Linked DNA regions of Homo sapiens. The protein of the gene in region 1 purifies or fractionates together with the protein of each later gene. This does not show direct contact. Each region holds a gene or a part of one and is shown in the gene's direction. Other genes may lie near its edges. The genes, in order: PCDHGC4, EPHX1, SC5D, ZDHHC18, ABCD4, ATP13A2 and SNX14.

What was found.
Region 2: the proteins of PCDHGC4 (region 1) and EPHX1 purify together in Homo sapiens (affinity purification with mass spectrometry; one large-scale study listed by BioGRID and IntAct). This does not show direct contact.
Region 3: the proteins of PCDHGC4 (region 1) and SC5D purify together in Homo sapiens (affinity purification with mass spectrometry; one large-scale study listed by BioGRID and IntAct). This does not show direct contact.
Region 4: the proteins of PCDHGC4 (region 1) and ZDHHC18 purify together in Homo sapiens (affinity purification with mass spectrometry; one large-scale study listed by BioGRID and IntAct). This does not show direct contact.
Region 5: the proteins of PCDHGC4 (region 1) and ABCD4 purify together in Homo sapiens (affinity purification with mass spectrometry; one large-scale study listed by BioGRID and IntAct). This does not show direct contact.
Region 6: the proteins of PCDHGC4 (region 1) and ATP13A2 purify together in Homo sapiens (affinity purification with mass spectrometry; one large-scale study listed by BioGRID and IntAct). This does not show direct contact.
Region 7: the proteins of PCDHGC4 (region 1) and SNX14 purify together in Homo sapiens (affinity purification with mass spectrometry; one large-scale study listed by BioGRID and IntAct). This does not show direct contact.

What each region holds. Positions count from the first base shown.
Region 1 is NC_000005.10:141,483,678-141,487,829, forward strand, and holds the start of PCDHGC4 (protocadherin gamma-C4 isoform 1 precursor), read left to right. Parts: upstream 1-1,352; 5' UTR 1,353-1,496; coding exon 1,497-3,938; coding exon of another isoform or gene 3,939-4,112; intron 4,113-4,152. UniProt on the Homo sapiens protein: Potential calcium-dependent cell-adhesion protein. May be involved in the establishment and maintenance of specific neuronal connections in the brain.
Region 2 is NC_000001.11:225,841,124-225,843,593, forward strand, and holds part of EPHX1 (epoxide hydrolase 1), read left to right. Parts: exon of another isoform or gene 1-64; intron 65-1,242; coding exon 1,243-1,351; intron 1,352-2,470. UniProt on the Homo sapiens protein: Biotransformation enzyme that catalyzes the hydrolysis of arene and aliphatic epoxides to less reactive and more water soluble dihydrodiols by the trans addition of water.
Region 3 is NC_000011.10:121,309,771-121,313,910, forward strand, and holds the end of SC5D (lathosterol oxidase), read left to right. Parts: 3' UTR 1-3,640; downstream 3,641-4,140. UniProt on the Homo sapiens protein: Catalyzes the penultimate step of the biosynthesis of cholesterol, the dehydrogenation of lathosterol into 7-dehydrocholesterol (7-DHC).
Region 4 is NC_000001.11:26,825,486-26,829,487, forward strand, and holds the start of ZDHHC18 (palmitoyltransferase ZDHHC18), read left to right. Parts: upstream 1-1,202; 5' UTR 1,203-1,319; coding exon 1,320-1,654; intron 1,655-4,002. UniProt on the Homo sapiens protein: Palmitoyltransferase that catalyzes the addition of palmitate onto various protein substrates, such as CGAS, HRAS and LCK. Acts as a negative regulator of the cGAS-STING pathway be mediating palmitoylation and inactivation of CGAS.
Region 5 is NC_000014.9:74,289,435-74,292,934, reverse strand, and holds part of ABCD4 (lysosomal cobalamin transporter ABCD4), read left to right. Parts: intron 1-65; coding exon 66-187; intron 188-292; coding exon 293-384; intron 385-558; coding exon 559-648; intron 649-2,435; coding exon 2,436-2,644; intron 2,645-2,816; coding exon 2,817-2,908; intron 2,909-3,415; coding exon 3,416-3,452; intron 3,453-3,500. UniProt on the Homo sapiens protein: Lysosomal membrane protein that transports cobalamin (Vitamin B12) from the lysosomal lumen to the cytosol in an ATP-dependent manner. Targeted by LMBRD1 lysosomal chaperone from the endoplasmic reticulum to the lysosomal membrane.
Region 6 is NC_000001.11:16,998,429-17,001,928, reverse strand, and holds part of ATP13A2 (polyamine-transporting ATPase 13A2), read left to right. Parts: intron 1-1,394; coding exon 1,395-1,529; intron 1,530-1,616; coding exon 1,617-1,683; intron 1,684-1,786; coding exon 1,787-1,918; intron 1,919-3,500. UniProt on the Homo sapiens protein: ATPase which acts as a lysosomal polyamine exporter with high affinity for spermine. Also stimulates cellular uptake of polyamines and protects against polyamine toxicity.
Region 7 is NC_000006.12:85,513,859-85,517,358, reverse strand, and holds part of SNX14 (sorting nexin-14), read left to right. Parts: intron 1-2,729; coding exon 2,730-2,853; intron 2,854-3,124; coding exon 3,125-3,289; intron 3,290-3,463; coding exon 3,464-3,500. UniProt on the Homo sapiens protein: Plays a role in maintaining normal neuronal excitability and synaptic transmission. May be involved in several stages of intracellular trafficking. Required for autophagosome clearance, possibly by mediating the fusion of lysosomes with autophagosomes.

The sequences.
Region 1 (4,152 bases):
ACAGAAAGCCAGATTCCTCTTTTTGACACCAGAATATTGGTTCCCACCATAGTCAAAAGGATATTCCTGAGGATCGAGGCTTGGAAAAATATTGGGGAAGGATAAGAACTCCAGTTGTTGCTGCTTTTTTTGGCAGCCAGTGTAACCTAGGTAAGGACTTGGTTGAATTAAGAAATTTCATGTCCAGATCAGGATGGATTTTTCTATTTCTCTGAGCTCTGGTGTGTTTCCCACTCAGATTGCAGGTCGTAGGTACCTACGGTGTGAATTGTGTTGTGTTTCTGTGCTTGTGCAAGGGAGTAGCTAGGTTGCTGGGAGGTCTGGATGAGGGTGGGGGTGGGGTGAGATCAAGTCTCCAGCTCCAAGAGGTCCCCTGGGGCTAAGTGAAAAGCTTGCTCTTTTGAAATGGTCTTCGTTGGTAATTAACAAAAGATCAAGAATACCTTGGTGTCAGATAAAGGGAATTTGTAGGCACAATGCTGTTGGTAGCTGATCTCAATCATTCAAGGAAGCTATTAAATCTATGAACATTAGCATTCTGCCAGGTAAAGAGATCTGGTCCTTAGCACCTCCCAGACACACTGATTCTTTACTGTTTTGAAACATCTCCCTCTCCTGGCTTCCTCCACCCCGCTTCCATACTGTCCTTGAAATCAATGAATGGTAATTTAGTGTATCTAGTGTATCACTAGCAAATGTCTGAATAAGAAAGGTTTGGTTTCCGCTGTGTCTCCTGTTACAATGAGAACATGTACTGCATAAATTTAATTGGCTACGTTAATGTGTAAGCCTTTTCTGCAAAGAGATGGATCCGTTTCTGAATATTCTGCAGAAGGGCAGAGTTTTGAGTATATGGCAGTGGTTCTAATTAGCAGTTGCTCCAATACAATCAGACTGAGACGGAAGCTACTCATTTAGAATACTGGTTGATGACAACACTGGCTTGAACAAAGTGACCACTCTCCAATGGCTACTCTCCCTCTCAGTGGGCCGCAGGTTGCTAGGGCTCAGGCTGTGGCTGTTTTCCCCGCCGAAAAGGGGCGGGGTCAGTCGGTGTGTTAGGAAAAAAAATGTATATATATATATATGTTGTCTGCCTCCCCACAGAGATAACAACCCGTGGAAAAACATGCCGTTGAGCGGGAGGAAGGCGAAAAGATAGGCTGGGTTTTTTGGGGGGTGGGGGAGCGTGGAGGATAGGGTGGGCTTTTTCCCCTCCAATGCTGCGACGCATTAACCCTGCTGCTGTTGGGACGTTCTCTGCTCAGCCTATTGGCTGAGCCCGGGAGCCGCTGTCTGCCAATCGGGTGGTGAAAGGCAGACAAATCTACCCCGCCACCAGCAAAAACGGCGCGTAACCCTTGCGGCGCCGGCCGAACCGCGCCAGAGCTGGCGCGGGGAAAGGGAGATAGGTGTCTCCAGCTGCTGTGGCTGTTTGGGGCGGGTCGGCTTCATCCGCGTCTCAGGAGCAAGTAGAGAATTAGCGGGCGGCAGCAATGCTCCGCAAGGTGAGAAGCTGGACAGAAATCTGGCGGTGGGCTACCCTTTTGTTCCTCTTTTACCACCTGGGTTACGTTTGTGGGCAGATCCGCTACCCGGTCCCAGAGGAGTCACAGGAAGGGACTTTTGTAGGGAATGTCGCTCAAGATTTCCTGCTGGATACGGACAGTCTGTCAGCTCGCAGGCTGCAGGTCGCTGGAGAGGTGAACCAAAGACACTTCCGTGTGGATTTGGACAGCGGAGCCCTGCTCATCAAGAACCCAATCGACCGAGAGGCACTGTGTGGGCTCAGTGCCAGCTGCATCGTGCCCCTGGAGTTTGTCACCGAAGGTCCTTTGGAAATGTACCGAGCAGAGGTAGAGATCGTAGATGTGAATGATCACGCCCCCCGTTTTCCGCGGCAGCAGCTGGACTTGGAAATTGGGGAGGCAGCTCCTCCAGGACAGCGTTTCCCGTTGGAAAAGGCTCAGGATGCAGATGTGGGGAGCAATTCGATTAGCAGCTATAGGCTGAGCTCCAATGAACACTTTGCACTGGATGTGAAGAAGCGCAGCGACGGCAGCCTGGTCCCAGAGCTGCTCCTGGAGAAGCCTTTGGATCGAGAGAAGCAATCGGACTACCGCCTGGTGCTGACTGCTGTCGATGGAGGGAACCCGCCGAGATCTGGCACCGCAGAGCTCCGGGTATCCGTGCTGGACGTAAACGACAACGCCCCAGCCTTCCAGCAATCCAGCTACAGGATTAGTGTGTTGGAGAGCGCACCAGCGGGCATGGTGCTCATCCAGCTCAATGCCTCAGACCCGGACCTGGGTCCCAGTGGTAACGTCACCTTTTATTTCAGTGGTCATACCCCTGATCGTGTAAGAAACCTCTTTAGCCTGCACCCCACTACTGGAAAGCTTACTCTTTTGGGGCCCCTAGACTTTGAGAGTGAGAATTACTATGAATTTGATGTGCGGGCTCGCGATGGGGGTTCTCCAGCCATGGAGCAACATTGCAGCCTTCGAGTGGATCTGCTGGACGTAAATGACAATGCCCCTTACATCACAGTGACCTCAGAGCTTGGAACCCTCCCCGAGAGTGCAGAACCTGGCACTGTGGTGGCACTTATCAGTGTGCAGGATCCAGACTCAGGGTCAAACGGAGATGTGAGCCTCCGCATTCCTGACCACTTGCCATTTGCCCTCAAGTCTGCCTTCAGGAACCAGTTCTCCCTGGTGACTGCTGGACCCTTGGATCGAGAGGCCAAATCTAGCTATGACATCATGGTCACTGCTTCTGATGCTGGGAACCCTCCTCTCAGTACCCACAGAACTATTTTCCTCAATATTTCAGATGTGAATGATAATCCACCCTCTTTCTTTCAGAGGTCACATGAGGTGTTTGTTCCTGAGAACAATCGCCCAGGGGACCTGCTTTGCTCCCTTGCAGCCTCTGACCCAGACTCTGGCTTGAATGCGCTTATCTCCTACTCACTCCTGGAGCCCAGGAATCGAGATGTATCAGCTTCCTCTTTCATCTCTCTGAACCCCCAGACAGGAGCTGTTCATGCTACTCGATCCTTTGACTATGAGCAAACCCAGACACTGCAGTTTGAGGTGCAGGCCCGGGATCGGGGCAACCCACCCCTTAGCAGCACTGTAACAGTTCGTCTATTTGTGCTGGACCTCAATGACAATGCTCCAGCTGTGCTCCGTCCTCGGGCCCGGCCTGGTTCCTTATGTCCCCAAGCACTGCCTCCATCAGTTGGTGCTGGCCACCTAATCACAAAGGTGACTGCTGTGGACTTGGATTCAGGTTACAATGCTTGGGTTTCCTATCAGCTCCTGGAGGCCCCAGATCCCAGCCTGTTTGCAGTCTCTCGATATGCTGGGGAGGTGCGGACGGCTGTTCCTATCCCAGCTGACCTCCCACCACAGAAGCTGGTCATTGTGGTAAAGGATAGTGGTAGTCCACCACTCTCTACCTCTGTTACTCTCTTAGTGTCCTTAGAGGAAGACACTCATCCAGTTGTCCCAGATCTTCGAGAATCTTCAGCTCCAAGGGAAGGAGAATCTCGTCTAACCCTCTACTTGGCTGTGTCCCTAGTGGCAATTTGCTTTGTCTCCTTTGGCTCATTCGTGGCACTACTCTCTAAGTGTCTTCGTGGGGCAGCCTGTGGAGTCACATGCTTTCCTGCTGGCACCTGTGCCTGTCTCACCAGATCTCGAAGGAGGGAGGGGCTTCCCCCTTCCAATGGGATCCTCCGAATCCAGCTAGGGTCAGATGACCCTATCAAGTTTGTTGATGTGGGAGGCCACTCTCATGGCTGTACACCCTTGGCTTCTGCACCCACTCGGAGTGATAGCTTCATGATGGTGAAGTCACCCAGTGCACCTATGGCAGGGGAGCCTGTTCGCCCAAGCTGCCCACCCTCTGATCTTCTCTATGGGCTAGAGGTGAGACCTTTGCAGGCTCAACAAATGCTTGAGGGTTATTCTGATCCAGGCATATGGCTAGGCCATGTCCTAGAGAGTACTGGCCTCTCAGTAAGTGCCCATAGTGATGTCACCATTTTTGTAAGAGGTAACTATGTGGTAGACGCTGTGCTTTGTAACTGTTTCGTGAATTAACCAGAGTTGTCACAGTTTAGCATTGGGGGCGGGTCATGCC
Region 2 (2,470 bases), on another chromosome or scaffold:
TTCTCTCCCAGGTACCACGCTCTGACTTCTGACTGAGATGGTTTTGATTGTGCCTGTTTAAGTCCTATGAATAGAATCACAGAGTATATACCCTTGAGTCTGGCTTCTTTTGCTCAATATTATGTTTGTGAGATTCATTTATGCCATTGTCCCAGCTTTATTTATTTATTTTTTCTCAAGACCCAGTCTGGCTCTGTTGCCCAGGGTAGAGTGCAGTGGTGTGATCTCAGCTCACTGCAACCTCCGCCTCCCAGGTTCAAGCAATTCTCCTGCCTCAGCCTCCCAAGTAGCTGGGATTACAGGCACCTGCCACCATGCCTGGCTAATGTTTTGTATTTTTAGTAGAGACGGGGTTTTACCATGTTGGCCAGGCTGGTCTCGAACTCCTGACCTCAGGTGATCCACCCGCCTCGGCCTCCCAAAGTGCTGGGATTACAGGTGTGAGCCACCGCACCCAGCCTGTCCCACTGTCCCAGCCTTTTTTTTTTTTTTTTTTGAGACAGAGTCTTGCTCTGTTGCCCAGGCTAGAGTGCAGTGGTACGATCTCGGCTCACTGCAACCTCCACCTCCCGGGTTCAAGCAATTTGCCTGCCTCAGCCTCCCAAGTAGCTGGGATTACAGGCATGCACCACCATGCCCTGCTAATTTTTTTGTATTTTTAATAGAGATGGGGTTTCACCATGTCAGCCAGGATAGTCTCGAACTCCTTACCGCAGGTGATCCACCTTTCTCACCCTCCCAAAGTGCTGGGATTACAGGCATGAGCCAATGCCCCCAGCCTGTTCCAGCCATTTTTAATGACTGTACAGTATTTTGGCTTATGAGTATATCAATATTTGTAACTGATCCCCTATTTTAGACTTTTTTAGGTGGCTTCTCATTTTTCATGAATCAGAGCACATAGACTGAAAAACCCCGCCTTTTTAAAAACAGCACTTCTCATTGGGACCCCACCAAATGCAGAGGCGTAGGCCCTTCAGTTTGAAGGAAGCTGAGCAGGCAGTGTGCCAGGCCCTGGGAGACAGTGGGAAGGTATCGTCCCTGTTTATCAGATGAGGATGCCGAGGCAGAGTTAAGGAAGCGAGGCATGTGAGCACCCAGGAGTTAAGGCAGGCCTGTGCTCGAACGTGGCTTCCTGCACACAGCCCCGCCCTCTGCGGCCAGTGCCACACATCACACCTGAAGCTCCAGCTCTCTGGTCCCCAGGCCTGAGTCTCTCCCTTGCTCCCCGCTCCCCGCCAGGCTCTGCTCTGAATGACTCTCCTGTGGGTCTGGCTGCCTATATTCTAGAGAAGTTTTCCACCTGGACCAATACGGAATTCCGATACCTGGAGGATGGAGGCCTGGAAAGGTGAGGCCCTGGTTTGCCCCTGCAGTCATGACCCTGGTCCCAGCAGCCAACCTCCTCACCCTCTTCATCCCCTTGTCTGGTTGCTCTGCATGGGGCACTCAGCAAATTCTATTGTTGGCTTTCTTACAAATCCTCACCCTGTGACCAACGTAGCTGCATTTTTTGGGTGAGGTGGCCTGGTGGGTTGTTCCCAGCCTCACAGTGCATGGTCAAGACTAGGATGCAGGCTCACCTGCTTGTGCTCCTTTTGCTGAACAGGCCCCTCTGGGGATTAGGGAGCCCACAGGGCAGCAGGCACCACATTATTGTCAAGAGCACCTGGGCTTTTCCTCCTGATTCCCTGGAGAGCCTGGCATCAGGGTCACGTGACTGCGTGTTCCAGGAGGGTGGTCGCAGAAAGACAGGAGGCTGTTAATCTCTCAGAGCCTTAGAGGCTGTATCCTCTACATGCCTGACTCCCAGCTCTGTGGCCTGACTCAGGCTTCACCAAGGTCAGCTCTGACCCACCCTTTCCAGGGCCCATCCCTTTATTCCTTCAGTGACACACAGGACCAGACAGTGCTGGGGATGGGAAAGACAGTAAAATGAGACTGAATCCTGCCTTGGGGGTAGGGACTCTGTCTTGGCCATGCTGTAGCCCCATCACCTAGAACAATGCCGGGTGAACAGTGGGAGAGCCCAGTACATAGATGTTGAATGAATGCGCAAAGGACTGTGAGAGTCCAGTGGAAGGAGGATTCTTTGTCTAAGCGGCAGAGAGGGGAAATGACCAGGAGAATGTATCTGATTTGGGCCTTGGAGGATAAGTAGGAGTTTGCTGGATGGAGGAGAGAAACTTAGGCAAAGAGAAAAGCAATAAAAATGCAAGGAAAGGGTGCTTGGAAAGGGTGGCTTGTCCAGAGGCTGAAGCAGGTACACTGGGGCCAGATCAAAAGCAAACTCATTCCTGCAGGCAGGTCCTCACCTCCTCCAAGAGCCTCAGCAGGGCCTTCGTCTGGGATCTGTTTCCCCTGCCCTACATTCAGCAGGACACAGGGGTTGATGGAGCTTCTGCAAGACCACCTTGGCAGGGGGTCTGGCCTGCTCCTTGCACACGGATACCTGGAGCAAGATGTGAGG
Region 3 (4,140 bases), on another chromosome or scaffold:
GTACTGCCACATTCTCCTACTTTCTATTAGAGGAAGTCAGAGAATATTTATGGAAGTGAGGACCCAAATTACCTTCTACAGATGACTTTTATAGTTACAGGACAGAAAGTGAAAATCAAGGTTACGTTTTCTACTTTTGTGGTAGAAATTGAGAAGTGGGTGGATATGGTTCGAGAAGACCTTTCAGAAACACAGAGACTGAGTCTTTGTCTTCCATGCTGTCTCTGCAGTACTGAGTGAATTTCCTTATACCCTTGTATCATGTTTTCCTCCCATCTTCTAGAAGCTGGGGACAGATTTGGAAGAGAATTACACAAGTTCAGTTTTTTGATACATGGATTTTACAGTGCATGCAGGTTATTTATGTAGAGAGGAGGTCTGGGAGAAAGATGGAAACTAGGGAGATGACTGAGAACAAAGATATTTGGGATTAACACAGATAGAAGAAAAGTTTGAAACCATGAGATTGTCACAGCATGAAAAAAGATATTCAAAGACACTAACCAACTTGAGGGGTGCAGTGGTCTGAATGTGTCCTCCAAAATTCAAATGTGGAAATGTATTTGCCAGTGAGATAGTATGTAGAGGTGGGGCCTTGAGGAAGTGATTAAGTCATGAGGGCTCTGGGATTAATGACTTAAAAAGAGGTGTGAGGCAGCTGTTCAGCCCTTCTGTCTCCTGTCCCTTTTTTTTTTTTTTTTTTTGAGATGGAGTCTTGCTCTGTTGCCCCAGGCTGGAGTGCAGTGGCGTGATCTTGGTTCACTGCAAGCTCCACCTCCCGGGTTCACGCCATTCTCCTGCCTCAGCCTCCCGAGTAGCTGGGACTACAGGTGCCCGCCACCACCACGCCCGGCTAATTTTTTATATTTTTAGTAGAGATGGGGTTTCACCGTGTTAGCCAGGATGGTCTTGATCTCCTGACCTCATGATCTGCCTGCCTCGGCCTCCCAAAGTGCTGGGATTATAGGTGTGAGCCACCATGCCCAGCCCCTTCTGTCCCTTCTAACGTGAGGACCCAGCAACAAGGTACCATCTTGAAAGCAGCAACTGGGGACTCAGCAGACACCAAACCAACTGGTGCTTAACCGTGACTTCCCAGCCTCCAGAGCTGTAAGAAAATAAATTTCTATTATTTATAGATTACCCAGTTGAAGATACTTTGTTAAGGCAGTACAAATGGACTAAGACAAGGGGGAAGAAATTTGCATTCCTGATCTTCCCAACTTCTTCAAATTCACAACACTTGAATGACAGTCTTATTTCAGCACTTACTGCTATCACCTATTACTTTTATGTGTGTCTTACCTATTTGAGATGCCAGATTCCTTGGAAGTAGAGACCGTGTCTGAATCATCATTGTATTAAACCACTCATCCTTAACAAATGCCCAAGCCATGGTTAAAGTTCAATAAATACTTTGTTGAATTTATTAATAAAATGGCAGAAATGTCATTCTCTTCCATATATGTTTAATAAATCCCTGATAGGTGCTAAGCACTGCACTAGGTAAAAATTCTCTTCTGATGCTGTCTTTTTGGCCAACCATTTTTTTATCATTTATTCATTAGCTGACATTTGCTAAGTGCTTTGGAGGGGTCAAAAGGGGAAGTAATGAGAAATCAAAGATGGTCCCTACATCAAGGATAAACTATCTTTTTTTAGTCACTCAAAGTCATAACCCTTTGGAAACAAAACCCACCAGTACCCCAGATTTTGACCACAGATGAATCAGTACTACAAGGACTGGTTAGAGGGTTGAATGAATCTGTATACTCAGCACTTAACACAGCACTCTGGGTAAAAGAAAAAAGATCCTCAAAGATATTAGTTGGTTACATCAAGAAAGGACAAACTTAGGTTAATCTATAACTTCATCTCAGAGGAACAGGAACTTTGGAGATAAACAGGGCTCTGCCACTTGCAAGTTGCACCATCCCTGGTTTCTCCATCTGTAAATTGATTAAAACACTGCCTATCTAATAAGATTAAATAAGTTAGAAGCATTCAGTTAAATGTCAACTGAAACTATTGTTCATGTAAATTGTGCTTGATGCTTTTTCTTTCTAGATTCAATGATTATTGTCATTTTACCTCCATAGGCCCTCAATAGAAATCAGTTGCAGAGGGCAGAAGCCTAGATATTTTCACCTTAAAATTGGAGGGTGAAAGACATTGAGGTGAAGTAGAGATAGAGGGTACACAGAAAAATCGTATAAGTAAAACTAACATCGTTAACATTATTTACTGTAAGTTATCTTTGTAAGAGTGGTAAAATACATTGTGTTGTTAAATAATTTCATTTAAAAAATGCATCACTTTGTGTGTTTTTATATTGCTAAAACCATAAGGCCAGTCTACAAGGTTTGTAGATAAAATAGAAACATACCTTCCTTGAAAAGCAGAATAAATTTTTTAAAGGCAGGAAGGAAGTGTTTGAACCATGTGTCAACAAGCTTTACTGTCAAAGCAGGCTTTTGGTATGGGAAGAAAAATACTTATAAATACTTGTTTTAATATTTGCTTTATTAAAATACATTTAAAATACAGCATTTTTAAATCTCTAAGCTCAACTTGAAGATATAAGAACAGTAAATTTGATAAAAATGAGAAATTACATTCCCATTTCTTTAACAATTTGTAAATTCCAATTATCCTGAACATTTAATACCATTTACATATTTTATTAATCACATTTTCTTAAACATTTGATAAGAGATTTAATATTTTGATCCAACTACCAAAAAAGCAGACTTGTGTACTTGACAGATTTTTCTAAACACTTCACAACTCACGATTCAAACAAAGACAAAATAGCATATCAAAAGTTAATCACTCAGTTGGAAAGCACTCATACCATAGGCTTTTATTCATTTCTTGAATAATTTTGTTATATCTTCCTCTTTTAGGCTGCAATGAGCTATAATTGCACTACTGCACTCCACGCTGGGTGACAGAGCAAGACCCTATCTCTAAAAATAAAAAAGTATATATATATAAAAATATCTTCCTCTATTATAATTTAACTCATTAAGCCATTTATTTAGATGTAAACTTGCCCCCCTGACATGTGGTATGAAACAAATAGAAACCTAGAAATTTAGTGCATATTCAAATATTAAGACAGACACTGGTGTGGTGACTTTTGTCTGTCGCTTCATTGGGACGTTTTTTCTTTCTGATCAACTTAATGAAATTATAATTTACTATAATTAAGTGTAGCCATTTTTACTGTAGAGTTCAATGATCTTTGATGAACGTGTACACCCATGTAACCACCACCCCCAATCAAAGTAAAGAACATTTTCTTACCAGAATAAATTTCCTCTCCGTTTGCAGTCATTCTCCCCAGCCCTAGGTCACCACTGATCCACCTTCTGTTACTGGAAGGTTAGTTTTCTTCCCTGATTTAGAATTTCATATAAATTAAATCAGATAGTATATACTCTTGTGTTTAGTTTCTTTAGCTTAACATGTTTAGAGATATTTGCTGTTGCCTGTGTCTGTAGCTTTTTGTTTTCATTGCTGAATAGTATTTCATTGTAATATACCACAGTTGGTTTATGTATTTGCTGATGAATATTTGTGTTATTTCCAGCGTGGGATTATTATGAATAAAGTTGCTACAAACATTTGTATACAAGTCTTTGTGTGGCTATATGTTGTTATTTCTCGTTGGTAAATATCTATTAGATTTGCTGGGTCATAGGGAAGAGATATATATGTATACGTTTAATTTTATAAAACACTGTGAAACTATTTTCCAAAGGGTTGTACCATTTTACCCTCCTGCTCCCAATGATGAGAATTCCATTTTTCCCGCATGTTCACTAACACTTAGTATCGTCAGTCCTTATTTGTAACCATTCTAGTGGGTGTGAGGTAGTGTCCCACTGTGGCTTAATTTGCATTTTCCTGTGACTAATGATGTTAAGCACCTTTTCTCCTGCTTTTTTTTTTTTTCTTTTTCAAACTTTTTATATCTTTTGTAAAGTATCTGTTTAAATCTTTGGCCATTTTAAAAATTAGGTTGTTTTGGTGTTATTGACTTATAAGATTTTGTATATATTGACAAAAATTCTTTGTTAGATGTATGTATTACCAATATTTACTCCAATTTAGCTTGTCTTTTCATTTCCTTAC
Region 4 (4,002 bases), on another chromosome or scaffold:
CCTCCAGCAGACACCCAGCAAAAATCCCAGGCCCTCCTCAGTTATACAGTCACCCAGCAAAAATCCCAGGCCCTCTTCAGTTAAACAGTCGCAAGGAAGTTAATTCTGCCAATAACCCAAATGGGCTTGCAAGTGGATTCTTCCCTGGCTGAGTCTCCAGATGAGAATGCAGCCTGATTGCAGCCTTGTGAGACTAAGCAGAGGACCCAGCTAAGCTGTTCTCTGGCTCCTGACCTGGAACCTGTTAGATAACGTTTGTTTTTTGTTTTTTTTGAGACGGAGTCTTGCTCTGTCACCAGGCCGGGTGCAATGGCACAATCTCGGCTCACTGCAACCTCCACCTCCTGGGTTCAAGCAATTCTCCTGCCTCAGCCTCCCGAGTAGCTGGGACTATAGATGCCGTGCCACCATGCCCAGCTAATTTTTTATTTTTAGTAGAGACGGGGTTTCACCATATTGGCCAGGATGGTCTCTCTCGACCTTGTGATCCACCCACCTCGGCCTCCCAAAGTGCTGGGATTACAGGCGTGAGACACCGCGCCCGGCCGATAATGTTTGTTTTAAGCCTTAAATTTGTGGTAACTTGTTACACAGCAGTAGAAAATGAATACTCCCAGAATTCCTGAAAAAACACTGGGGCCCTCAGGCATGACCCCTCTACATTATGTGCTACCTAGGAAAATCTGGGCCTGGGCCCAGGACACAGAACTTGGTGAACGAGGCCAGAGGGTGTGCCACACACCTCCAGTGGGCACTCTGGACTTCAAGGTAGAAGAGGTCCTGGCTTTCAAAGCAAATCGTGTGCCCCACCTCCCCGCGCCTGCCTGCCTCTGCAAATGCCTGTCAGTTCGACCCTCAGAGATGGGCGAAGCCTGGGGAATTACAGACTGCCAGAAGTAGATCACGAAGTCCACCACCTGAATCTCGGCGTTTGGCACCGTGCCTGGTACACAGTGGACGCCCAACAAACGGCTTGCTTGCAGAACAGAAAGAGCCCTCGAGTGCGCGTCTGCTGGCCCCCTCTTTGTGCAGAAGGGAAAAGGGAGACTGGGAGGGCCGGGGACCTGCGGGGCCCCGCCGCGGGTCAGAGCTGGGCCTCCGGCCAAGCGCCATCCCGGGCCCAGGCGGAGGGGGCGCTGCGGCGGGAGGCCGCGGCGGGCGGTGGCGGCGGGCCGGGGGCGGAGCGATGGCGGGGCCGCCCCAGTGAGTGAGCGAGCGAGCGCCGCGCGCGCCGCCGCTGCCACCTCCGCTGCTCGGCCCGGTCCCGGAGTGGCCCGGCCGGCCCGCGGGGCGCGGAGCCGAGGCCCGCGGCTGGCTGCATGAAGGACTGCGAGTACCAGCAGATCAGCCCCGGGGCCGCCCCGCTGCCCGCCTCCCCGGGGGCGCGCCGTCCCGGCCCCGCCGCGTCCCCGACTCCGGGCCCCGGGCCCGCGCCGCCCGCCGCCCCCGCCCCGCCGCGCTGGAGCAGCAGCGGCAGCGGCAGCGGCAGCGGGAGCGGGAGCCTCGGCCGCCGCCCACGGCGCAAGTGGGAGGTGTTCCCGGGTCGCAATCGCTTCTACTGCGGCGGCCGCCTCATGCTGGCCGGCCACGGCGGCGTCTTCGCGCTCACGCTGCTGCTCATCCTCACCACCACCGGCCTCTTCTTCGTCTTTGAGTGAGTTCCGCTGCCTCGGCGCCCCCTCCCAGCCCCCTGCCGCGCACCCCACCTTCCCAATCCCTGCTGGGCACTCCGTGCCTTCCCCTTCGCCTCCCTGGTCCTCATCCTCCCCGCCCCTTTGGGATCCTCCTCGGGCCTCTTGTCTGCCCCCCTGGCCCCTGCGCACCCCCATCCCCGCCAGATGCCCCATCCTCCTTGGTCCATTTGGGTACCCCATCCGCGCTGGTGCCCTCCACCCTCCCAGCCCCTCCATTCTCCCTGACCCCACCCTGGCACCTGTCTGCCTGCCACTGCCAGGAACACCAGCCTCCATGCCCCTCCACGGCCCCCATCCTCGCTGCCCTCTCAGAACCTGCCCCAGGGCTTCTTGAACAGGCCCCTCCTGCTCACCCATCCCTGGACCATCTCTTGCCAACCCCCCAAGTTCTTTCTGACCCTTGTATCCCTTCCTGACCACTTCTAGATCTTGTGTGTCCTTTGGCTGTGCACACCCACCATAAACATCCTAGTCATCCTCGCTGCCCTCTCCGGGTCCCTCCAGGGTCCCCTCCTTTTCTCTAGTCTCAGACACCAACCCCGCTTTTGCTTCCCCTCAGCCACGCACACCCTAGGCCCCAAGGCATCTTTTCTCAAAATCTTTGGGCCTCTCGGGCCCCCTTTCCTTCTCCAGAACCTTCCTTAGGTTCTCCAGAGCTTCCTGTCCTTCCCTCAGATCCCGCCCGCCTCCACCCAGCCGGCTCCCAGGCCCCTGGCCCCCCTGCTGACCACCTGGCTTTCTTTCCCTGCTCAACATTCTGGAACGTCCCTCTGGCCTGTTCCACATCAGCAACAGCTGCGGTGCCTTGTTGTTTTTCAGGAAAGACTTCGGAGTGCTTTCGTGTGACAGGTCATATTTGCCCCCCTAGGTTTTTGTCCTCTTCATATCCCCCGGTGACCCAGGATTGGCCCACACATAATCTCCATTTTATGGATGGAGGGTCATATATTTGTATTAGAAGTTTTCCACCCACCTCTGAGCCACCTGCACTGTGATTCCTTGCACACACACTCACACGCCCACCCACCCACCCTTGCTTCATAAGCCCTGCTGTCCCCTCCCAACTCCCCATCCTTTGTGGTTGTTCCTCTTAATTATACAGTGTAGTTAAGAACTCTAACAGACCTGGTTCAAATCCCAGCTCCACCACCCACTAATTGCGTGACCTCAGGGCAGTCACTTCACCCCCTCAGTGCCCCAGTTTCCTCATCAGTAAAATGGGATTTATAATAGTACCCACCCCGTAAGGTTGTCCTGAGGGTGGCATGAGGTCACACATGCAAGCTTTTAGCCCAGTAACAAGCACACTATGTTGGCTGCTATTAGTACTTGTGTTGTCTTTATCAAAAAACACTTCCCAAGGGCATGTGGCCATGGTAAGGCTATCATAGAGACACCCGCCCCCAGGTACCCTTTCTAGCTGCCAGATCATGTATCTGCAACTTTGGGTTTCCCCTTGAAGCAAGGTGAAGACTTCCTATAAATTAGCTTCTCCCTTTACCCTTTAACCACACACTCTGCCCTTTTTTTTGAGTAGGGTGGATAAAAAGTTCAGGGATGATTTACAAGCAGAAGCTCTGGGGGGCCCAGAGCTCAGCTCTGGGCTGAGTTTCAGATCCACTTCCCTGGGCTGGCCACATGAGTGTTTTGGAAATGCCTTTTCTAGTATCCCCTGGGCTGCCCTCTCAGTCCCCACACCCAGGGCTGCAGCCGAGGCAGGAGGAAGCAGTACTTGCCGTGGTTGACCCACATGACCCTGCAGTGTGATATCTGGCCTAACTTCTGAACTAGAAGCAGGACCTTCTCTGGGTTGACCGGGTATCTTCACTGGTGACTGTTTTGTCCCCAGCGAGGGAGAAAGCAAGGACTTCTGGGTTTGGGGAGAGCTCGTGAACCATGTTGCAGTTTGTCCCCGCTTGTCCTCATTGGGGGCTGGTAGATTGGCAGAAGAGTTTGGGTTTGGGCCGAGAGCTCACCTGGGTCTGGACTGGATGCTCCCCATTGCTCTGGGAAAAGGTAAGGTGCTCTCTAAGCCTTTCCTGCTATGAATGGCTTTGCTTCTTTGTTTGGCTTGGTGGATTGTTGCACAGGCCTCCAGCAGGGCTCCCAACTTCTGCCTTACTTCTCGCCCCCACACAACAGCCAGAGTGCCCTTTTGATTCTAACTCAGGCCTGAATCCTCCCTGGCCTCTGTCCCCTGCTGTCTTCTGTCCCCGTCTTCCCTCCAGGCATGTCATCCTCCGTGCACACTCCTACCTCTGGGCCAGTGCTTGGAATCCCCTTCCTGCAGGTGGCCTCATGGCTCACT
Region 5 (3,500 bases), on another chromosome or scaffold:
AGGGTTGTGTCCGCTGTAGGGCATGTGGATGGTTCCTGGGTGTCTCACAGATGTGTTTTCTACAGTCGGCATCAACACCTTTGACTATCTGGGCAGCATCCTGAGTTACGTTGTCATCGCAATCCCCATTTTCAGCGGGGTCTATGGAGACCTGAGTCCCGCAGAGCTTAGCACCCTGGTCAGCAAGGTGAGACTCCCTCTTGGTCACCCCACATGCTGTCCCTCTCTGTCCTTGGCCCAGTGTCTGTGGGCTCGAGTCGAGACCTGCTTGACCTCTTCCCATCCTGTCCAGAATGCCTTTGTGTGCATCTACCTCATCAGCTGCTTCACCCAGCTCATCGACCTGTCCACGACGCTCTCAGATGTGGCTGGCTACACGCACAGGTGAGGCCGTGTCCCACCCCTCTGGCTCCTGAGCAAAGTGTGTGCTGCTGGCAGAAGTGGCTGAGTGAAAAAAGGAACAGAGACATACCATGTACTCGTGGGTGTGAGATAGGAAAAGGAGTTCACCTTCACCTGGCTCCCAGACCCTGCCTCAGATTTTCTTTTCTTGTTCAGAATTGGGCAGCTTCGGGAGACGCTTCTGGACATGTCCCTGAAGTCACAGGACTGCGAGATCCTGGGCGAGAGCGAGTGGGGCTTGGACACGTGAGTAGCGGGCTGGCAGAGCAGTAGTTGAGGCTGCAGGCTGTGGCATCACCTGGCTTGGGTTACCCTGGAGTCCTGCCCTTTCCCAGCTGGGCAGCAGAGTTGTAAGGAGTAAATGGAAATGGAATGCCAGGCACATGTAAGTTCACAGTCGATGTTGCTGTTCCGGCATCTGTTGTGTTAATTTACACCATTCCCCGGCCAGTGGAAGCAAAGTACACACACCTTCTGCCTGAGATAACAGGAATCTGCAGTGTCCTCCCCTTCCTGTGCTTCCTCCTCCCGCTGATTCCTCTCCCTGCCCCTTTCCTTGGGGCATGTCTGTCTTTGTTCCCCCACCTCACTCAGCCCCAGAGATGTCTGTATCCGTGTGTCTGCGTGGATCTGTAATATTTCTGTGCATTCAGGATTTGCTTGATCTCCACACTTTCCTTGGGCAGATTACCTAACTGTTCTGTTTCTTCATGTCTGAAAAGGAGGTCATAATGAACTTCCTTCACTTGTTGTAGGGATTAGATATCATCATCCATGGAAAGTGCTTGGACAGTGGCCACATCATAAGCTTTCAAAAATCAGTCTGAATTCCAGGGCCTACACTCAACTTGCTTTTCTTAGGAGCTAATACCTTAACTGTTGCTTCTGTTCCAAATGAAAGCTTCATGCAACCATGAGTGCAGAGGCTGGGCATGAAGGAGGGTCTGTAGGAAACTGGAATTGCTGTTCTGTGGGGAGCCAGGCATCCATGCAGAGGCAGAAACTCCAGAACCATTTAGCTTTAACCACTCCCATTCTTGTTATTAGTACTCTGGTCACACTGTGATGCCATGAAGACCCACCAGCATTAGAATTTGTTGAATACCGCTCTGCAACCTGGGCAGTTACTTAGCCACCTGATTCTTAGTGTCCTCATCTGTGATGATATTTGAGACTCATGGGCATTAGACTGAGTAAGATCAGTCCCATAAGGGGCTTTGTCCAGCCAGGCAGAGAGTAGAAGTTCCACCCCTACCCCTGTATTAATGTGCTCAGGCTGCCATGACAGAAAACCACAAACCGGCTGGCTTAAACAATAGAAATTAATTTCCTCACAATTCTGGATGCTTATGGTCCACGATCAAGTTGTCAGCAGGGTTGGTTTCTTAGGCCACTCCTTGGCTTGTAGATGGCCACCTTGTTGCTGTGTCCTCACGTGGCCTTTCCTTTATATGTGCGTGCCCCTGCCACCTCTATCTTAAGAGGACACCAGTCATATTGGATTAGGGTCCCACCCCAACAACTTCATGTTAACATCATCTCTTTAAAGACCCTGCCTCCAGCTGGGCACGGAAGCTCACGTCTATAATCCCACCACTTTGGGAGGCTGAGGTGGGCAGATCACCTGAGGTCACAAGTTCGAGACCAGACTGGCCAACATAGTGAAACCCTGTCTCTACTAAAAATATGGGCACGGTGGTGGGCACCTGTAATCCAGCTACTCAGGAGGCTGGGACAGGAAAATCGCTTGAACCCAGGAGGCGGAGGTTGCAGTGAGCTGAGATAGCTCCACTGCACTCAAGCCTGGGTGACAGCAAGACTTTCTCTCAAAAAAAAAAAAAAAAAAAAAGACCCTGCCTCCGAATGCAGTTACATTCTGAGTCACTAGGGGGCTGGACTTCAGCATGTGATTTTGGGAGGATGCAAGTCAGCCCATAATAATCCACAGGTGGTGGCTCCCGGGAGCAGTGCCTCCCCCACAGCAATACTGACCCTGCCCATCTTCCTCACGCCCCCTCTCTTCTCTGACACAGACCCCCAGGGTGGCCAGCGGCAGAGCCAGCAGACACAGCATTTCTCCTTGAGCGGGTCTCCATCTCTGCCCCCTCCTCTGACAAACCCCTAATCAAGGATCTGAGCCTAAAGATCTCCGAGGGACAGAGCCTGCTCATCACAGGCAACACGGGCACTGGCAAGACCTCCTTGCTCCGGGTTCTGGGTGGCCTCTGGACGAGTACACGGGGTGAGAGCCAGGCCCTCCCTGCCTCTGACCCAGCCTGGGCCCTAGGGGTGGGGTGAAGGCGGGGACGGTGTGGTAGAATCCATTCTTTTCTGTTGGGGAACAAGGAAGAGAGGAGACAGGCAGTTGCCTCTTCTGGGAGATCTCACAATGGAGGTTTCTGTGGGCTCTGCAGGCTCAGTGCAGATGCTGACGGACTTTGGGCCCCATGGGGTGCTATTCCTGCCACAAAAGCCATTCTTCACTGACGGGACCCTTCGGGAGCAGGTCAGTCTAGTTCAGGGGGCTCACTCCTCCCTCCTCAACCCCGCCCACCCACAGCTGGGACCTCTGGCACTGTGACAAGTCTCAGGTCCTAGAGTCAGGGCAAAAGGTGAGGTGGTGAAGTGGCCCGGGCCTGGGAACTGCTGGCTCTAAGAACCTTCTATTCACATCCATGGATTGGGCCCACTACTCATAGCAGCTCCTGAGGCAGGTAAATGGGGCAAGGACTCACGCCAAATACCACACGCGTATGTCAAACACCCAAGGTCGGATTCTGGGGCCCCTGCCCTCAGGAGGCTGTCAGACTGTTCCCCCTAAACACACTTCTGAAGGTTGTAGGGACCTTGCCCTGCTGTCTGCCGGCCAGAGCCTCTCCCATCTGACCCAGGCCAGGCGTTCCCACCTCTCCTCCTTGGGAGGTTCCAGTGGGTTCTGGAGGGAGGGTGGGCTGTGTGCAGCTCCGTCTTTTGCTCGCCCTCCTAGGTTGGTGTGGTTTTTTTCTTTTCTCAGGTGATATATCCCCTGAAGGAGGTCTACCCCGACTCAGGTGAGCTGGTCCTCCTTAGGTCATGTCCTCTCCTTCTGTCATGGTTGT
Region 6 (3,500 bases), on another chromosome or scaffold:
TGTCCCCTTCTCCATAGTGGATCGTCATCTCAGAACCTGCCGCAGTCAGCCTAGCCAGAGAGACCAGGTCCAGGAATTGGAGGTTCTGCCCAAGGCTTGGGTCACAGATTGGGGCCCCACTCATAGGGATTGGAGGCCAAGAGGCAAATCCACGCAGCCTGAGCATCTATGGGGTCCCCAGAGACACGCCCTAGAGCCTGGGTCCTCTCTGTGCGTCCTCCACTTTCATGCTCCCAACAGTCCCGTGGGTTGGGCCTGGGACTGCACTGTTCACACCTGAGAAATCCAAGCTTCAGTTGGAGGCTGTGACATGGCCAAGGTCACACAGGGACAAAGAGAAGCCAGTGACCTGGACACAACTAGAATAAAGTGTGAACATCCCAGCCCTCTGATCGGGGGCAGGCACCATGAAAGAGATCTTTGAGTCTGGCCCCATAGAAATCAGTCTGTCACTTAGAAGCTATGTGGTTTTTTGTTTTTTGTTTGTTGTTTTTTTTTTTGAGACAGAGTTTTGCTCTTGTTGCCCAGGCTGGAGTGCAATGGCGTGATCTCGGCTCACTGCGATGTCCACCTCCTGGGTTCAAGTGATTCTCCTGCCTGAGCCTCCTACATAGCTGGGACTACAGGCGCCTGCCACCACGCCCAGCTAATTTTTTTTTTTTTTTGTATTTTTAGTAGATACGGGGATTCACTATGTTGGCTAGGCTGGTCTCAAACTCCTGACCTCAGATGACCCACCTGCCTCGGCCTTGCAAAGTGCTGGGATTATAGGCATGAGCCACCGCACCTGGCTGGAACTATGTGGTTTTAGGCCAGTGGCTTCACCTGTCCATGCCTTGGTTTCCTCATCTGTAGAATGGAGCTAATGGTGGTACCGGCCTTGTAGAATTGTCATTGCCATTGTATGACACTTAGATAAAGCACTTGGCGTGTAGTGGGGGTTCAGTAAATACCCTTATCCTATTTATTTATTTGTTTATTTTTTTTGAGACAGGGTCTCCCTCTGTCACTCAGGCTGGAGTGCAGTGGCGCGATCTCAGCTCACTGCACCCTCCACCTCCCCAGCTTAAGTGATCCTCCCACCTCAGCCTCCTGAGTAGCTGGGAGCGTAGGCACAGGCCACCCCATCAGGCTAATTTTTGTATTTTTTGTAGATATGGGGTTTCGCCATGTTGCCCAGGCTGGTCATAAACCCTTGTCCTCTTTAGAGCGGAGAAACTGAGGGCCCTGGGGATGTCTGGTTGGGTGGGGATGGGATTGACCAGGAGAAAGGCCTGGCTCCAGTCCTTTGGCAGCCACTGGGCCCTCTGCTCCCATGGGCACAGGAGACCCAGCCTGTGGCTGGGCTGCCCTGGGGGACGCGGCCCTGACGCTGCCTCCCGCCCCTCCCCCAGGCACTGAACCCCTACTATGGGTTCCAGGCCTTCAGCATCGCGCTGTGGCTGGCTGACCACTACTACTGGTACGCCCTGTGCATCTTCCTCATTTCCTCCATCTCCATCTGCCTGTCGCTGTACAAGACCAGAAAGGTGAGTGCCATAAGGTGGGTGGGGACGGGACAGGTGGGTCCCCAGGGGCCCCCACCCACTCACGGCCCTCTTGTCCCCTGCCCACAGCAAAGCCAGACTCTAAGGGACATGGTCAAGTTGTCCATGCGGGTGTGCGTGTGCCGGCCAGGGGGAGGTGAGGAGCTAGGGCCCAGGGGGCGGGGGCAGGAGTGGGAGGGTGGGGGGGCATGGCTGGGGCTGGCCCCACCTAGCTGAGCTCCTCTCCTGCCTGCCTGCAGAGGAAGAGTGGGTGGACTCCAGTGAGCTAGTGCCCGGAGACTGCCTGGTGCTGCCCCAGGAGGGTGGGCTGATGCCCTGTGATGCCGCCCTGGTGGCCGGCGAGTGCATGGTGAATGAGAGCTCTCTGACAGGTGAGCCCCCAGCCCCTGGCCTGCAGCTTCCTTCCTCCCCTGCCATCCAACCCTTTGCCCTGCGGCAAAAGTTTTCATTTGAGTTTCCTTTTCCTTTTTTGTTTTTTTGTGAGACGGAGTTTCACTCTGTTGTCCAGGCTGGAGTGCAGTGACATGATCTCAGCTCACTGCAGCCTCCACCCCCCAGGTTCAAGTGATTCTTGTGCCTCAGCCTCCTGAGTAGCTGGGACCACAGGTGCATACCATCACGCCCAGCTAATTTTTTATTTTTAGTAGAGATGGAGTTTCACTATGTTGCCCAGGCTGGTCTTGAACTCCTGACCTCAGGTTATCTGCCCACCTCGGCCTCCCAAGGTGCTGGGATTTCAGGCGTGTGCCAGCGCTCCGCCTCCTCTTCCTTTTTCTCTCAAGCAACAATCCCAGCTTTAGGACTTGCTAACCTCACACCCCTGGGCCGTTACCACGTATCATCTCCGTGCCTCAGTTCCTTCTTCTGTAAGATGGCTGTCAGTCACTCCTCCTGGACAGAGTTGTGCAAAGTGCTTAGGAGCGTGAGAGGTGCAGCATAAATGGCCAGCCACCCAGTGCATCTGGGCTATTTCTCCTTTTTTTTTTTTTTTTTTTTTTTTTGAGATGGAGTTTCACTCTTGTTGCCCCGGCTGGAGTACCATGGTGCGATCTCAGCTCACTGCAACCTCCACCTCCTGGGTTCAAGCGATTCTCCTGCCTTAGCCACCCAAGTACCTGGGATTACAGGTGTGCGCCACCATACCCGGCTAATTTTGTATTTTTAGTTGAGATGGGGTTTCACCACGTTGGTCAGACTGGTCTTGAACTCCTGACCTCAAGTGATCTGCCCGCCCCAGCCTCCCAAAGTGCTGGGATTACAAGCATGAACCATAGCACCTGGCTGCATCTGAGCTGTTTCTATACCAGTGCCCACCTTCAGGTCATAAAGATTCCAGATGGCACAGGAGAGTGGGAAGCCCTCTCCCAGAGTGAGAGACTGCGGTCCCCATTCACTACCCCACAGTCCCCTTCCCTTCCCCTCCCCAGGGCAGCCACTGTGAAGGGTGTGAGGTGTCTTCCACGCCTTTTTCTGCATTACGTGTGTGCACATGGGCTGATTTGCCTCTCCTTTTGTTCTGAACGTGGGATTGTATGCTGTGTATTGTTCCATACTTTGCTTTTTCTCCTGGCATCCTTCCACAAGCACGGATGGCCCCACCTCATGGCTGCATGAGAGTCCACAATACGGATGTATCGTAACTGACTCAACCGGCCCGCTCGCCATGAGTATTTAGAATGTGATTTTCCAGCCATTGCAAAGGACGCCACAGGAGCAGCTTTGTCCTGTGTCTCTTGATGTGTGCAAGTATTTCTTTCTCTGAGATGTGTTATATTTTGGTGGTAGATACTGGAGAGAGTTTACTAAAAACCACAGGATAGTGGTTTTTTTCCAGGGAAGTTTTCTGGCTGGCATTGTATTTGTATCACAAATCGTAGGCCAGGCGCAGTGGCTCGCACCTGTAATCCCAACACTTTGGCAGGCAGAGGTGGGTGGATTGCCTGAGGTGAGGAG
Region 7 (3,500 bases), on another chromosome or scaffold:
CATGCCTACGATTGAGTGCTAGGCACTGGGAATATAAGGATACATTCCTTGTCCTCAAGAAGGTGTTTAGTGCCAAGGTGTAGTGCCCAGCATGGGGAGCTATGGAAGCTCAGAGGACCTCTATCTTTTATTTTTGTTAATACTCTGAATGGTATCTTTAATATTATTAATGTTTTCATTTTATAACTTGTATATATAGATAGAAAATTTTTATTTAGTCGTCTTGCTAGACTTAACATTAGTTTTAGTAATATCTGGTAATTCTTTTATATTGACACAATTGTTGCAGATGATTGCAGTTTTGTTTTATTCCTGACTAGGACTGCTATATAGAAAGGAAATTGTTTAATTATTTCACCATCGAATAGTGTGGTGTAGCTCTTTTTGTATTAATAGATAACCTTTATAAGATTAAGGAAGTTGCCAGGTGCAGTGGCTCACATCTGTAATCCCAGCACTTCGGGAGGCCAAGGTGGATGGATCACTTGAGGTCAGGAGTTTGAGACCAGCCTGGCCACCTTGGTGAAACCCTGCCTCTACTGAAAATACAAAAATTAGTCAAGCGTGGTGGTGGGTGCCTGTAATCCTAGCTACTCGGGAGGCCGAGGCAGGAGAGTCGCTTGAACCTGGGAGGTGGAGGTTGCAGTGAGCTGAGATCGCGCCACTGCACTTCAGCCTGGGGGACAGAGCAAGACTCTGTCTCCAAAAAAAAAAAAAAAAAAAAAAGATTAAGGAAGTTTACATTCATGTTTATGGGTAGAATATAGCCTATAATTTTTCTTTCTCATTCTGTCCTTGTTAGGTTTTGGTATCAAAGTTTTATTAGCATTTTTTATTTTTGGTAGACTTTTTATAAATATTTGATAGAGTTGGTAAAGTCATCTAGGCCTCCAGTTTTGTTTGTAGGAAGATTTTTTATAACCAATTTAATTTCTTTAACAATTACAAAATTCTTCAGGTTTATTACTTCATGAGTCATGAAGGTTACAAAATATAACCTATTGAACTCATGCTAGGAATGCTAGGAATTTGTCAGGGAGAAAAATAAGAGAAGAGCTTATAACATGTAAAGGTGTTTATTAAAATATTGTTTACATAAGTGAAAAATTGGAAACAACATGAAATTCTAACATTGTAGGAATGATTATTTTAAGGAACATCTATTCAAGGAGTGTTTTGCAGCAGATGAAATTGTGCTTATGAAAACTATAAAGCAACATAAAGATATTTGATATGGTGCTAAATGAAAAAGTAGGATGTGATATTTTTTGAACCTCATTGATTTGTGGCTATGTATATAGAGAGTACAAGTTAATATACAAAAGTTTAATAGTAACACTATTAGGTGGTTGAGTTTTAATTTAAAAGTTTAAATGCCCCTTTGCTCTGTGTCACTTTATTTAGCCTTAGTGATTATTGTCAACAGATGTAATAAACTGTATATCTCTTTATTATTTCAACTTTTATTTTAGATTTCTGCTTAAAAATAATGCAAACCGTGCTGAAAATACAGAGGGAAAACAAAATTGAGTTGTTTTTCCCGTTTTCCAGACTTACTATATAATATCACTGTTTTTTAGTGAAAAAAAAAATTACACTGAAAATTTAAAAGAGTAGAGGGAATAATATATCAGAAGGGAGAGCCCTTTTCCTATTTTTTGGGTTGGGGAAAAATGTTTTAAGTATGTGTCTGTGTTAATAATATCTGACATAAGAGCCAATAGAATATATGGTCTTTGTTCTCAGGATACTTTTCTAGGAGGCTTTTAAAAAATTCATCTTCAGGTAAAATCGAATATACTTTCCTCCACAGTCTCCTTACTTCTCTTCCCTCTCCCCTCCCCTCTTTCTCCCTTTTCACAGAGTCTCACTCTGTCACCCAGGCTGGAGTGCAGTGGTGCAATCTCTGGCTCACTGCAACCATTAATTCTTAATATCTTGTTTTAGTTCCCCCCCACCCCAACATTGATTAGGCCTTTGTGGGCTTTGAATATTGTCCAAATAAATTTCACCTAACGCTGGATTTTTACCTCTACTTATAGTGATTTATAATCTTTAAATCATGTTAGTGTTTTTTTTTTTTTTTTTTTTTTTTTGACGGTCTTGCTCTGTCACCCAGGCTGGAGTGCAGTGGCACGATTTCGGCTCACTGTTACCTCTGGCTCCCAGGTTCAAACTATTCTCCTGCCTCAGTCTCCCAAGTAGCTGGGACTACAGGCACGCATCACTACACCTGGCTAATTTTTTTGTATTTTTAGTAGAGATGGGGTTTCACCATGTTGGACAAGCCGATTTCAAACTTGCGAGCTCAGGTGATCTGCCTGCCTCCGTCTTCCAAAGTGCTGAGATTACAGGCGTGAGCCACTGCGCCTGGCCTAAATCATGTTAGTTTTAAAGTTAGCTATCAATAATATATTTGTACATCTTTTTATGTTACTTTGCTTTTGTGGTATGTAAAAACAAAGGGGTCTTTAATGGATAATGAATTATCTACTGTAACTAAAATGAATATTTTAGTTTTTATGTAATATTTTTGGGGAACATGTATTTTTTATTGCAATTCGGGGCATAAATGGGGAATTTTAGAAGCATATATTAACCTATCTAATATTCTGTTTTGATTGGAAAAAGTTTAAATGCCTTTGCTGTGTGACACTTAATCCTTATTGATTATCGTCAGCAGATGTAATAAACTATATATCTCTTTATTATTCCAACTTTTATTTTAGCTTTTCAATGATCTGTTTAAAAATAATGCAAACCGTGCTGAAAATACAGAGAGAAAGCAAAATCAGAATTATTTTATGGAGGTGATGACTGTAGAAGGAGTCTATGATTACCTGATGTATGTAGGTAAGATCTAAGTGGTTTAAGACTTGTTTTTCATTCATCTTACTTCTTCTGTGATGCAAATAATGATCTTGAGTATTGCCCCATCATAACTGTCTTTTTAATTGAAGATACCTTTTATAATAATTCAATACGATTGGCCTTGATCATATTAAAGTTGCTAGTGTTTACAAATAAAATATTGACCATGGTCATTTGTGTTTTCTACATTGGCAAATTTCAAAAATACCAATTCATCTGGAACAATGAGGTATCCCATTTGATCCTTTCTCAGGACGGGTAGTTTTCCAGGTTCCTGACTGGCTTCATCATCTCTTAATGGGAACTCGAATCCTCTTTAAAAACACCCTGGAAATGTATACTGATTACTATCTTCAGTGTAAACTAGAACAGCTATTTCAGGAGCACCGTTTGGTCTCACTCATAACACTTCTCAGAGGTTTGTATTTTCTAATGTGTTTGTTTCATATTTTGTGTACTCTATGATTTTAATTGAATCTAAAGAGGAAGAAATCTTGTTTTGCTTTGGTTTATTAGTATTTCTACTATGAGGAAATCCTTTGTGTATAAATAGATGAAAATTCCAGAAATATTTCTTTTTACTCTTTTTTAGATGCTATATTCTGTGAAAACACTGAACCTCGCTCTCT